2 linked regions of the Homo sapiens genome follow. The protein of the gene in region 2 purifies or fractionates together with the protein of the main gene of each other region. This does not show direct contact. Each region holds a gene or a part of one and is shown on either strand. Other genes may lie near its edges. The genes, in order: RDX and LARS2.

Evidence for each region.
Region 1: the proteins of LARS2 (region 2) and RDX purify together in Homo sapiens (co-immunoprecipitation; 2 studies listed by BioGRID and IntAct, with this or other methods). This does not show direct contact.

Annotation. Positions count from the first base shown.
Region 1 is NC_000011.10:110,286,321-110,293,614, reverse strand, and holds part of RDX (radixin), read left to right. Parts: intron 1-6,407; exon of another isoform or gene 6,408-6,615; intron 6,616-7,294. UniProt on the Homo sapiens protein: Probably plays a crucial role in the binding of the barbed end of actin filaments to the plasma membrane.
Region 2 is NC_000003.12:45,545,419-45,550,044, reverse strand, and holds the end of LARS2 (leucine--tRNA ligase, mitochondrial), read right to left. Parts: intron 2,695-4,626; coding exon 2,515-2,694; 3' UTR 638-2,514; downstream 1-637.

The sequences.
Region 1 (7,294 bases), on a different chromosome or scaffold from region 2:
AGATTATTTTAAGTCTCATGGCATTACTGATCCAGCTGAAGACTGTTCTGGTAACTTCCTTGATTGCTGCAGCCAGGGTGTGCGTACTGCTTTGATGATAGAGGTGTCCAATCTGGCCCCAGAGAGTTCCTCAATTTCTAGCCTATTTTAGAGAAATCCTGCCTTTCCTACTTTAAGTTCCTGGTGTATATCTTTATATTGAATGTATAGCTTAAGCCATTTAAAAAAAACTATAAAAGTGATATATTTTATGGCAAAGTTTAAAAACTCAGAAAAATGTCAAGGAAAAGGTCAAAGTCCTCCTTACTCCCTGGAACACCCCAGCCCCTTTCCCAGTCCTGTTTTCCATAGGTAGCTGCTGTCGGCAATTCCTTGTTTATAGAAAATGCCAGTAGGTATGCAGGGATAAACATATACTTTATATCCCTTATTTGTGATTTTAAAGTCTTGTTAAAATAGGGTTATATTGTAACAGACATTGAAAGGATGCTTATTAACTTGTGTTAAACATTGAGTAAATCATATTTCTCATGTTTTCATCATTTGAATAAAAGCACACAATAGAATTCCCTACGCTAATTCTCAAGTGTGTGTATGTGCAAATTTGTTTGTGTACAGATTTTCTTGATTAATGATTGAAGATGAAGTTTACTTTTTGTTTTCTAGCATATGGCATATAGTTGACAATGAGAAATGGTGTCTTTTAAAAAAGGAGGTTTATAATTTGGTGTGGGAAATAGCCACATCTTGCTCTTTACAAAAAAAGTTTGCCAACTCCTTAGAAAAAACATCCTGTTGAAAGGATATTTTAGATACAGTATTGAAGAAACAGGTACTTCATTGTTTATTTTCTCTAAGATTATAGAATTTATAAAGCTATTAGTAATTGAGATAATGGACTGTTTTCTTCTGAGTTGTAGATAATCTCTATGGCTTTCAGGACCTTAAATGTTTTTTTTTTTTAATTTATTTGTGAAAAGTTTAAGTCAACTAGGACTGACTGCAGGTAAATTTGTGAAGTGAGCGCTCTTCAGTTTTGAGCCCTTAGATCCTTTAAGATGCATTGGCATCAAATAGCAGAAAATTCTCCAACTGGTTTAAACAATGAGGAAATTTAATGTCATTTTTTTCTTCATTTTTTTTTGAAAACAGAGTCTTCCTCTGTCACCCAAGCTGGAGTGCAGTGGCACTATTACAGCTCACTGCAGCCTTGACCTCCTGGGCTCAAGTGATCCTTTAAGTTCCTCCCACATCAGTCTCCCTAGTAGCTGCCAACACAGGCGTGTGCCACCATGCCTAGCTAATTTTTTTTTTTTTTTTCCAAGACAGGGTCTCGCTCTGTTGCCCAGGCTGGAATGCAGTGGCATGATCTCAGCTCACTACAGCCTCTGCCTCCAGGGTTCAAGCGATTCTCCTGCCTCAGCTTCCCTAGTAGCTGGGATTTAAGGCACATGCCACCAGGCCCGGCTAATTTTTGTATTTTTAGTAGAGACAGGGTGTTACCATGTTGGCCAGGCTGGTCTCAAACTCCTGACCTCAAGTGATCTGCCCGCCTTGGCCTCCCAGTGTGCTGGGATTACAGGTGTGAACCACTGTGCCTGGCCAACAACTAATTTTTTAAAAAGCCTTTTTGTAGATACGGGGTATCCCTATGTTGCCCAGGCTGGTCTCAAATGATCATCCTGCCTCAGACTTCCTGCCTTGGACTTTCTGCCTCGGCCTCCTGAAGTGCTGGGAGGATTACAGGTGTGAGCCACCATGCCTGGCCAAAATTTAATGTCTTGCATACTAAAAGTCCAGAGGCTCAAGAATGGTTCAATAATGACATCAAGGACTCCTTCTCTTTCCAACTCTCTTCCCTGTGATTTTCCCTATTAACTTCATACTAAGACAGCCCTTACCCATCTCAATTTGGCTGCTGCAAAGGAGCCAGGAGCGGTGGTGTGGACCTGTAGTCCCAGCTACTCAGAATGCTGAGGTTGGGGTATCACTTGAGCCTGGGAGGTCAAGCCTGCAGTTAGCCCCTTGTCCCAGTTTGGCTGCTGCATCCCATCCAGACAGGGCAGTATCCAAAGGAATAAGAGGAACTGTTTCCAGAAACCCCCAAGCAGATGTCTTTCGAGCCTCATTGGCCAGGATTGGGGCACATTCTATACCTAACCAGTCAACTGGCAAGGGTAATGGAATTGCCCTTTCTTCCAACTCTGTTCCCAATAGATACTTCTTTTTTCTTTTTCCTTCCTCCCTCCGTCCCTCCCTTTTTCCCTGTCTCCCTCCTTCTCTCTGTCACTGTCACCTCTCTGCTGCTGGAGTACAGTGGCATGATCATAGCTCCATGCCACGAACTCCAGGGCTTTGAACTCCGGGGCTCAGGCAGTCCTCCCACCTCAGCCTCTGGAGTAGCTAAGACTACATGTGCACACCACCATGCTTGGCTGATTTTAATTTTTTTTAGAGATACAGTTTCACTATGTTGCCCAGGCTAGTCTCAAACTTCTGGCCTCAAGTGATCCTCCTGCCTCAGCCTCCTAAAGTGCAGGCAACTGCACCCAGCCCTGTTATTTTCATTATTCATCTATATTACATGTCTTCGGTCCTTTTTTTACCCCCACCCAAAGTCATATCCAAAATTGATCCATTACAGATAGTCATATGTAGTGAGCTCATATCTTTGTAGGTACCAACTTCAGTTAAATTATGAAAGGAAAAGTGTTGATTCTTGTTAAAATACTTGGCAAATTGTGGTCCATGGGCTAAACCCAGCCTACTGCCTGTTTTTATAAAGTTTTATTTGAACACATCGTAGCTGACTTGTTTACATATTATCTATGGCTGCTTTCCTGCTACAACAGTAGAATGGTTTCAACAGAGACTGTGTGGCTTACAAAGCTTATAATGTTTACTTACCTGGCCCTTTACGGAAAAAGTTTGCCGACCACTGCTTTAAGATGTCAGTCGTACATTTGGACAGTTATTATATGCCACATACTCTTTGCATTTGAGAATGGAAAGATGAGTAAAATACTCAGGAGTTCTCACTCTAATGGGCAGATAGATGTGCCATATTGTATTCATAAAGTGTGTTAAGTGCTTTTTTTTTTTTCTTTTTGAGACTGTCTCTGTTGCCCAGGCCAGAGTGCGGTGGCTTGATTATAGCTCACTGTGACCTTGACCTCCCAGGCTGAAGTGATCCCTCCACCTCAGTCTCCCAAGTAGCTGGAACTATAGGAGCTTGCCACCACTCCCGGCTTTTTTATTTTTTGTAGACACGGGGTCTCACCATGTTGCCCAGGCTGTCCTGGGTTCAAGTGATCCTCCCGCCTCAGCCTCCCAAAGTGCTGGGATTACAGGCGTGAGCCACCACACCTGGCCTGTTAAGTGTCACAGTAGTGTGTATAAGTTAATTAATACTCCTTGCAGCAGCATTTTAAGCACAGTATTCTGTGCTGTGAGTTCTGGATGTTTCTTGCTTCCTCTGTTTTTTTTTCTTTGTTAAATCTTCCTGTTGTTTTTGTAAATTGACTGATAATCTTTTAATAAGTTAACCAGAGTGGGTATTTTTGTTTATAACAAAAAATCCTGGTGAGTACATGGAATAATGTGGATGCATTAATGCAACGTAAGGACCCTTGTTTTTTTTTTTTTTTTTTTTTTTTTTGAGACAGTCTCACTTTGTCACCCAGGCTGGAGTGCAGTGGCATGATCTCAGCTCATTGCAGCCTCTGCCTCCTGGATTCATGCAATTCACCTGCCTCAGCGTCCCGAGTAGTTGGGACTACAGATGCACACCACCAAACAGGTCACCACGTCTGACTAATTTTTATATTTTTAGTAGAGACGGGACTAATTTTTATATTTTTAGTAGAGACGGAGTTTCGCCGTGTTGGCTAGGCTGGTCTTGAACTCCTGACCTCAAGTGATTCACCCGCCTTGGCTTCCCAAAGTGCCGAGATTTCTGGTGTGAGCCACCGCCCCCAGTCAACATAAGGACTCTGAGTGAAAGGGAGAATGGGAACATAGAAAATCTCAGCTGTGGTTAATTGACTTTAGATCCCTTTGGCTTGGATTAAATTTTCTTAGCCATTGTGAGGACTCCTGATACTTAAGCTGTTTATAGGTTCTAGACTTAGAAAAACTATAAAAACTTAGTTTGGCTATTCAGCAAAGTTAGTATATATCACCAGAAAGCTTACTGCTAATATCTAATCAACAAGCAGCATGGTAATTACAGTTATCATTAAGTGTGTCAAATTATCTGGCCTTTAATTTGATTGTCAACTTAATTGAAATTATTAAAACAGTTTTGGATAGAGATGGTTAAGGCTTGAATTTGGGAGGCCTAGTTGTAAAAAGTTTTTTTTTTTTTTTTTTTTTTTGAGATAGAGTTTTGCTCTTGTTGCCGAGGCTGGAGTGCAATGGCGCGATCTTGGCTCACCACAACCTCGGCCTCCCAGGTTCAAGTGATTCTCCTGCCTCAGCTTCTCAAGTAGCTGGGATTACAGGCATGCGCCACCACGCTCGGCTAATTTTTTATTTTTGGTAGAGATGGGGGTTTCTCCATGTTGGTCAGGCTGGTCTCGAACTCCCAACCTCAGGTGATCCGCTCACCTGGGCCTCCCACAGTGCTGGGATTGCAGGTGTGAGCCACCACGCCCAGCTGTAAGGAGCTTTTTTTGTTCCCCATGTTCATGTTGGTTCTCTCTTCTTAGTGATGCTTATTAGTTTGGTCATTTTACAACATAAAAAAAGAGAGGAAACTATTGCCCTTGACACTAATCAACAGAAAAATTAAAACTAGTATTATGTGTAAGATTAATTCACCAACAAAATCAACAGACATTTTGAGGCCCAACTGTGAACCAGGCATTGTATCAGTTTTTCAAAAAAGGGAGTTAATATCTAGAAAATTAGAAGCTTAATTTTTTTATAGCAATAGAACTGCCATATAGCCTCGTTGACTGTGTTAGAGAATATTGTCTAATTATAAAGACATTTAAGAAACATACTGACTTTGTTCTGTTTTGAAAATAAGCTATAATATCTGATGTTTCAAAGCACATTAAGGGTAGAATTATTTGTGAGAATTATTTTGTGTTTGCTTCTTTCCTGTTATATAAGTGACTTGCATGAACCTGTTTTCCCATTTCTAAACATTTTTATGTGAATGTTTAATGTTTTCTTAAGAGTGAAATGAGGAAGTTGAACTGGATTTAGCTTTCTTACCTTTTAGTATTTAATAATTGCAAATGATAGTGTATTATTTTGTTTTCTGCTCACCTTAGGAACAATACAGGTATGATTTTCCTTTTTAAATTTACAAAACTCTTAGAAGAGATCCTAAACTCAGTGTAAAACTTTGGTGTTAATATTGCAGTTCAGCTTTATAAATTTTAGAAATTTGCTTTGCATTTTCAGTAACATGTATATTACTCAAACGTTGAATATTTCATTTCCTTGAAAATATCATTAAACCAGAAATCATTTCTACATGAGCAAGACTTAATATCTTATTTAAAACTGCCTCTCACCCTTACAGGAAATCCATTTACAGAGATGATCATACCAGTTATTAATGTGCACTTAAAACATCTTTAGAGGTAGTCTCTTGACCTGCTAACAATAGAGAGCTTTAATAGCCTACTTCTTGAAAAGCCCTAGTAATTGTTTCGAATGAACTTGTCTAAAATGGTATCTGAGAAAAGTAGAATAAGATAATCAAAAGAGCCCAAGACTAGGATTTTAAAGGACTTATGTCTTGTTAAGTAGCCCCCTGACATTGAGCAAGTCATTTATCTGAATCTTAATTTCTTTTTTAGAAGAATGAGAGATTGTAACACCTGTCTTGGGCAGGAAGGGGGAGGGCAGTTATTGTGAAGATAGGAAGTGTAGGCAGAGTGGAGAGTGAGCATTCTACAGATGCTCCCTGTATTCACTACCCTTCTTGCTTTTGGCCTTATTTCTTTACTTGCAAAATGGAGCTAAAAATTCTTGTCCTCTTTGCTTCACTTTGGGATGACGGGATGACATGTCATTATTTAGGTAAAAGTGCATTATTATTGCCATAAAATTTATTAACACTGAGCTAACAGCATAATAAGCATAGTTCTTTGTATATTAAAGGTTTTAAACCCGGGGACCTATGACCTTGAATGGGGAAAAAGTTACATCTTTATTTTTACATTTTCTTGTTATGAGTATAGACAACATTAGCATTAGCAGTACAGTACCAGAGACTGTGTCGTCTATTTTTTAATTTAATTTTTATTTTTTATAGAGATGGGATCTCACTCTGTTGCCCAGGCTGGAGTGCAGTGGCACCATCACTCCTGGGTTCAAGTGACCCTTTAGAATAGCTGGGACTACAGGTGCACATCACTACACACAGCTAATTTTTTTATTTTTTGTAGATTGCCCAGACTGGTTTTGAACTCCCGGCCCCAAGCCATCTTCCTGCCTTGGTCTCCCAAAGTGTTGAGATTACAGGCATGAGCCACCATAACCAGCCCAGAGACTGTTTCTAATAGAAACGGTAGATACTTTTGGAATACATTAAAGCTGTCTCGAAATAACTTAACTGTTACTTAAAGTATTAAAAAAGCATATATATTACTCAAGGTTTGTGTTTTTTATATTTTGATAATCATATTCCAGTGTAATTGGTTTCTTTTGTAATTTTCTGTATTGTGTGCATGTATTTTATGCATTTAAAAATACTTTTCTTAGAAAGAGTTCATAGGCTTCACCAGCAGGGCCCATGCAGGAAAAATAAAATGATTAAGAACTTCTTTAGTAGATTCCATTATTGTGTTGATTGGACTGCCAGAGTTGCCTTATTCAGTTTATACTGTTCTTTGTTGTGCAGCTTTCTCCCAGTAAATTGGCAGATGAGTTCTCTTGGAATATTTTGGTTTCTGGAGAGACCACAATTATGTTCAGAGGTCATTTCTAAGTCCGAAAAGGCAGAAAAAAATTTAAAATAATTAAAATTAGGCTTAGGGAAAAGAGTATCTCAAAAGTAAAATCAGGCAATCTGCTATGAATTATTGATGCTTCAGTGCAGGCACTGCATGGACTAGACTTTATAACACCTGTTTTACCACCTGACAGGTGTGAGTCTTGTGCCACTGACCTAACAGAGCTCAATGTGTCGAGCATGAGGCTATTTTTCCATTGCATTAGGTAGAAAGGAGACTGAGGGTTACCCTCAGAGTTAAAAGACAAAGGAGAGAATGTTTATTGTGTCTATGTTGTCTCTAATGTGTGGCACTGTGTTTGAGTACATATTCATATGAGT
Region 2 (4,626 bases):
CCACACTCTGCTCAAAATGCCAGTGGTTTTGGGAGCCATCTCACCTGACTGTGTACACCAAGTAACATGGACAATTAGGTGAGGGGACTGGTAGACATGGCGGGGAGGCAAACGTGGAGGACAGAAGATGTGGGCTTGGATCCCAGTTCTCCTACTTATTAGCTGTGAAAACTGAGACAATTATTGAACCTCAGAGCCTGGGTTTCTTCTTTTATGAGAGAATAATTCCTTCCCTCTAGAGTTTTTGTGGGAATTAAATAAGATAATTATTGTGAACCTGCTGAGTCCAGTTTCTGACCTCAACAAGACAGTCAATAAATGGCTGAGATTATTCCCCACCACCTCACTCCCAGGGGTCAGAGTTTTCTGTCCAGTTGTTCCATTACCCATACTGTCTCTTAGTATGTACTGATGAGCTCTTGTTTGCAAAAGCTTTATCCTCTTGGAGCAATTTCTTCAGAGCCATGCTGGTGTCAGCCAGCTGGTCAGTCTAGCAGCCTTGAGGCTTTACTGGCCCATTGCTCTGGTCAGATCACATGCAAATAAAGGGCTCCCTTCCCTCATCTTGTTCAAGACCACTTAGCTTACTAGGAAATAACAAGATAATCAAAATCACTCACTCCTTCCTTGTACCAAATATTTTCATGGGCTTATATTTAATCCATATTCACTGCCATGTGCAATGAGACTGAGTACATTCAAGTCGGCTCTAGCACTCTAGACTTCTGGCCCCTGTCTTCCCTTTTGGTCCAACTCTTGGTCCTGGACCAAACTTATCCCCGCTAACCTGAAGATTAGGAAGAGGAAGAACTAGATAGAAATGATGGCTCAAGTGCATCAATGTGTCCAGTGATTCTCAAACTTTGCTGCCCATTAGAATCACTTGTGGAGTTTTAAAGATTCCTGGTGTTCAAGCCACACCATGGACCAATTAAATTGGAATATCTGGGCATGAGGACCAGGCAGAGTATTAAGTCTGAGAACCAGTGACTTAATTGCTGTTGCTAGTTTGCCTGTATCAGTGTTGTCTACCATGGACTGTAAGTTCTGGAACAAGAAGAACCACATGTATCCCACTTTATAGCATTCCATGTGGAGTCAGACACACAGCCAATGCTTCCGATGATGATGGAATACCTCAATCTGTTTGTAATTAACTCTGAAATTGGAATATGGTGTATTCCAGGATCACACATATGTCCTGAAGTCATAGATGATAAACATTTTATTACACTAAAAAAGTCATCTGTTAACTGCTGAACTGCAGGGGGACCACATGTGAGGCTACTTCAGAAAAATGGCATCAGATAACATATATAGATTTCTGGCATTATAAAATGGCTAGATTCTCCCCTACCTTCCCTCATTAAATATTAATCAGTGGCTTAGGTCAGTTCTAGTGGGAACACTTAATTGCTGACTTCACATAAAACCAGGATTAGCCTAATGTGCCAATGGTATGAGTCCATTCCTGGCCATCTTCCCAACAGCCAGACCGCTGTGGCTTGGACACCGGAGGCAACATCTGGGGGGCCTCAGTTCCACTCCTCTGTGGTGAGCTTGCTCTTCCTAATAACTGGCTCTGGAGTCACATCAACAATGGTGGCATTGCCATCTGGGGCCCACATGAGCCCTCTGGGGCGTGCTGCATCCCTACTGGGCTGCGGTGGGGCTCTGAGGTTGGGACCAGCAGCCTGAGCCTGGTTCCACTTCACTACACAGCAAATTGTATACCCAAGGGAGTGGTTATGACTTGCTGCTCCTCATTCATGTGAGGAAGTGGTGCCTTGCCTGGGATCCTGTGTGTCAGAACCACAGCAGGCCTGGGAGGCACATCCAGCTGGGGTTGGGGAGGACAGGCCTGCATGACAGAGCTGGGGAGTGGTGGGGACACAGGCAGAGGAACCAGCACTGCCTGCCTTTTGATTCAAAGCAACTTCAGAAGATCCCTGTGTCCATTTCCACATATTGGTTATTTGAACATTTCCTAAATGACTTCCTCATCCAGCCTGAAGGCAAAGAGACCATTCACTACCATCTGGAGGCTCAGTTAGCAGTTCCAAGTGGCTGGCACATTGCACCTGAGTCCTGCAGTTCCTCAGGCTGGCCTCAAATTCCCGAGAAGTGCCTAAGGCAGAGCCATTTCCCAGATCCGCAGGCTTCCTGGCTGCTCGAGGGGCACTGCTCCTTCCTGCTCCCACCAGCAGTGTCTCTGATGGCTTCCCATGGGATCAGATGGCCTCCTCTACCTGCAGTGTGGGTGGGGGGTGAGGGGCAGGATGTCCAACCCCCTCCTCAGTAGCTCATATTTCTCCTTTGCCCAGCTCACCTTCACCCCAGCACCAGGCCACACTACAGAGGCACACTGTTGACTGCAGTCTGCCACAGGACCGAGGTCAACAGTCAAGACATTTGTCTTTTCCCTTCCCCTGGGCCAGCAGACATCGCCCCCTCATCCCAGGCCTGGAAGGAGGTTCCTCAGAGGCCCTCGTGGTAGCTGCAGCCTCCTGGCTGTCAATCTTGCACCAGGAAGTTGATGAGGGCAGTTCTCGGGGAAAGGAAGGACTTCTTGATGCTTCGTCCTTGCAAAAGCCTGACACCCAGCTCGCTTTGAAGAACAAATTCGTGGACTTTGTCCTGGTCCCGGGCAACTTGTTGGGGCACAGGAATTTTGCCACAAGCTTTATTGTTGATCTGAGAAGGAGAAAAGCCAAGATAAACAATGAGGAACATCCTCAGAGTGGCAGGCGGCCCAATACCAAACCTCCTGCCTGTAAAGGGCATGGCTGCATTTGTTTAGGGGAAAGGAATAGAGGTGGAGAAAGGAGGAAGTCAGCACTCTGCTTCCCATAAGGGTAAAATGCAACCAGCTGAATAGGATTAATGCCTAGACCTGCAGAAAGAGACCGACACTGAGACTGCATGTGAGTGCCCGTACGTGGAGTGAGGACCGCCTTGCATTTTCTGAGCACTGCTCCCATACACAGCTGTGGTAGAGATTATGTCAAAAAGCCTCAGCATGAGATGGCTTGGGCCATTTCCAGGCAGAAAGGGATTATTCTGTCATCGGGGCTCAAGTTTAAGTTCAGATCCAGGTTAGAGTGAGCTGTCCCCTCAGATTTTACCTAGGTCTCAAGTGGACCAAACAGTTGACGGTTTCAAGGGGGACACAGTCAAACTTCTCTCTCTGCTGACTGGCTCCAGAAGGGGGCGCTCTAGTGTGAGGACTTAGAAATTGGAGCCACATCTTGTCACATTAATCACTCTTTCTCGCTTAACATGGGTCAGTACAGTTCCAGACACAGGTGGGTATTCACCGAATATTGATTCAATGAGGGAAGGTGACCACGTGGCTCAGTTTCTGAAGTCATGCTTCCAAATCCTCAATCCCATTGCTCCGAAATCTACACACACATTACTTTCACTAGCTCTTATTTTTCACTTGGAAAATATAGTCACAGTCTTAGGAAAAGTTACTAGGAATAATTTCTCAAGTTTCAACCAAAGCACATTATCAAATGTCCCCTAATCACCCACTTCATTTTTTCAGTTTTGCAGAACTTGGTGGCATTTTTATTGTCTGCATTAGCCTAGGTCACAGGGAGAGGACGAATAAAACACAAAGTCCTGGCATATTATGAAATACTGTTTTGAAAGCGTGAGGCTCCATGCTGCAGCGTTTTAAAGCGTTCTGAAGCTGGGGAACTAAGTGTGTGGTGTGAAGGACTGTGGCCCCCCTGCCCTGGTGTTTCTGAGCCATTAGAAGCTGCCTTCTTGCAAGGCCACATGCTTGGCTGGACTGAGACCCTGGAAGAGACCTCCCAACTGTCACCCAAGAGCCATGCCCCTAGTGAAGTCCTGGGGTCCCCAACAGGGAATTCTCAGGACATGCAGTTATTAGTGAATCATGTCTTTCCTCCTATGGAAGAGCAGCCCAGGGCAACATCTCCTCTGGGCCACCACCTACAGAGGGGGTGCTGGGTGAGGGGGAGCATGGTGCTCTCATGTGGGGAGATTCAGGTTTGACTCTTAGGCCTGGTCTTACAAGCTGTGGGATCTTGAGCTTAGTTTTTTTTTTTTTTTTCCTTAAGGACAGAATTCTCCAGATTCTGGAGTGAATAACCTGTGTAAAGGGACCAGCTCACTAAGCTGCACTCCCTCTGCCTTTGTCAAGAGTGCTGGCCAGGATAGGAGCTGGCTGTGGGATGTCCTCTTTGACGCATGGCCTCAGCACAACAATGACCCATTTCTAAACCTTCGAGCTTCCTGTGCTTTGCTGGAGCCGGGCAGGCTGGTCCTAAGTCATCACTGGTGACAGCCTGTCCAAGGGACCTGAGTCATTCTTGTCCACAGCTGGGGCTTTGGGGGCAGGGCATGTGATCTCTGAATGTGGCCATCGTGCTCTGAGTCTTTCCCTTGCTGCCTCGGGCACCCTCACACGGTTCTGGCTCCCCAGGCCTCCCCTGAGTTGCCTTACCAAGGCAGTCCCTTCAGGGTGAGTAGGTGCCAATCATGCTCCCCCTGTCTCTGGCATAAAGCGCCAATGAGATGGGCAGAGAAGTCAGGTTGGGACTCAACACTGAGCCTGAGCTTCAAGGGCCCAAAGAGGAAGAAGCACATTGACAT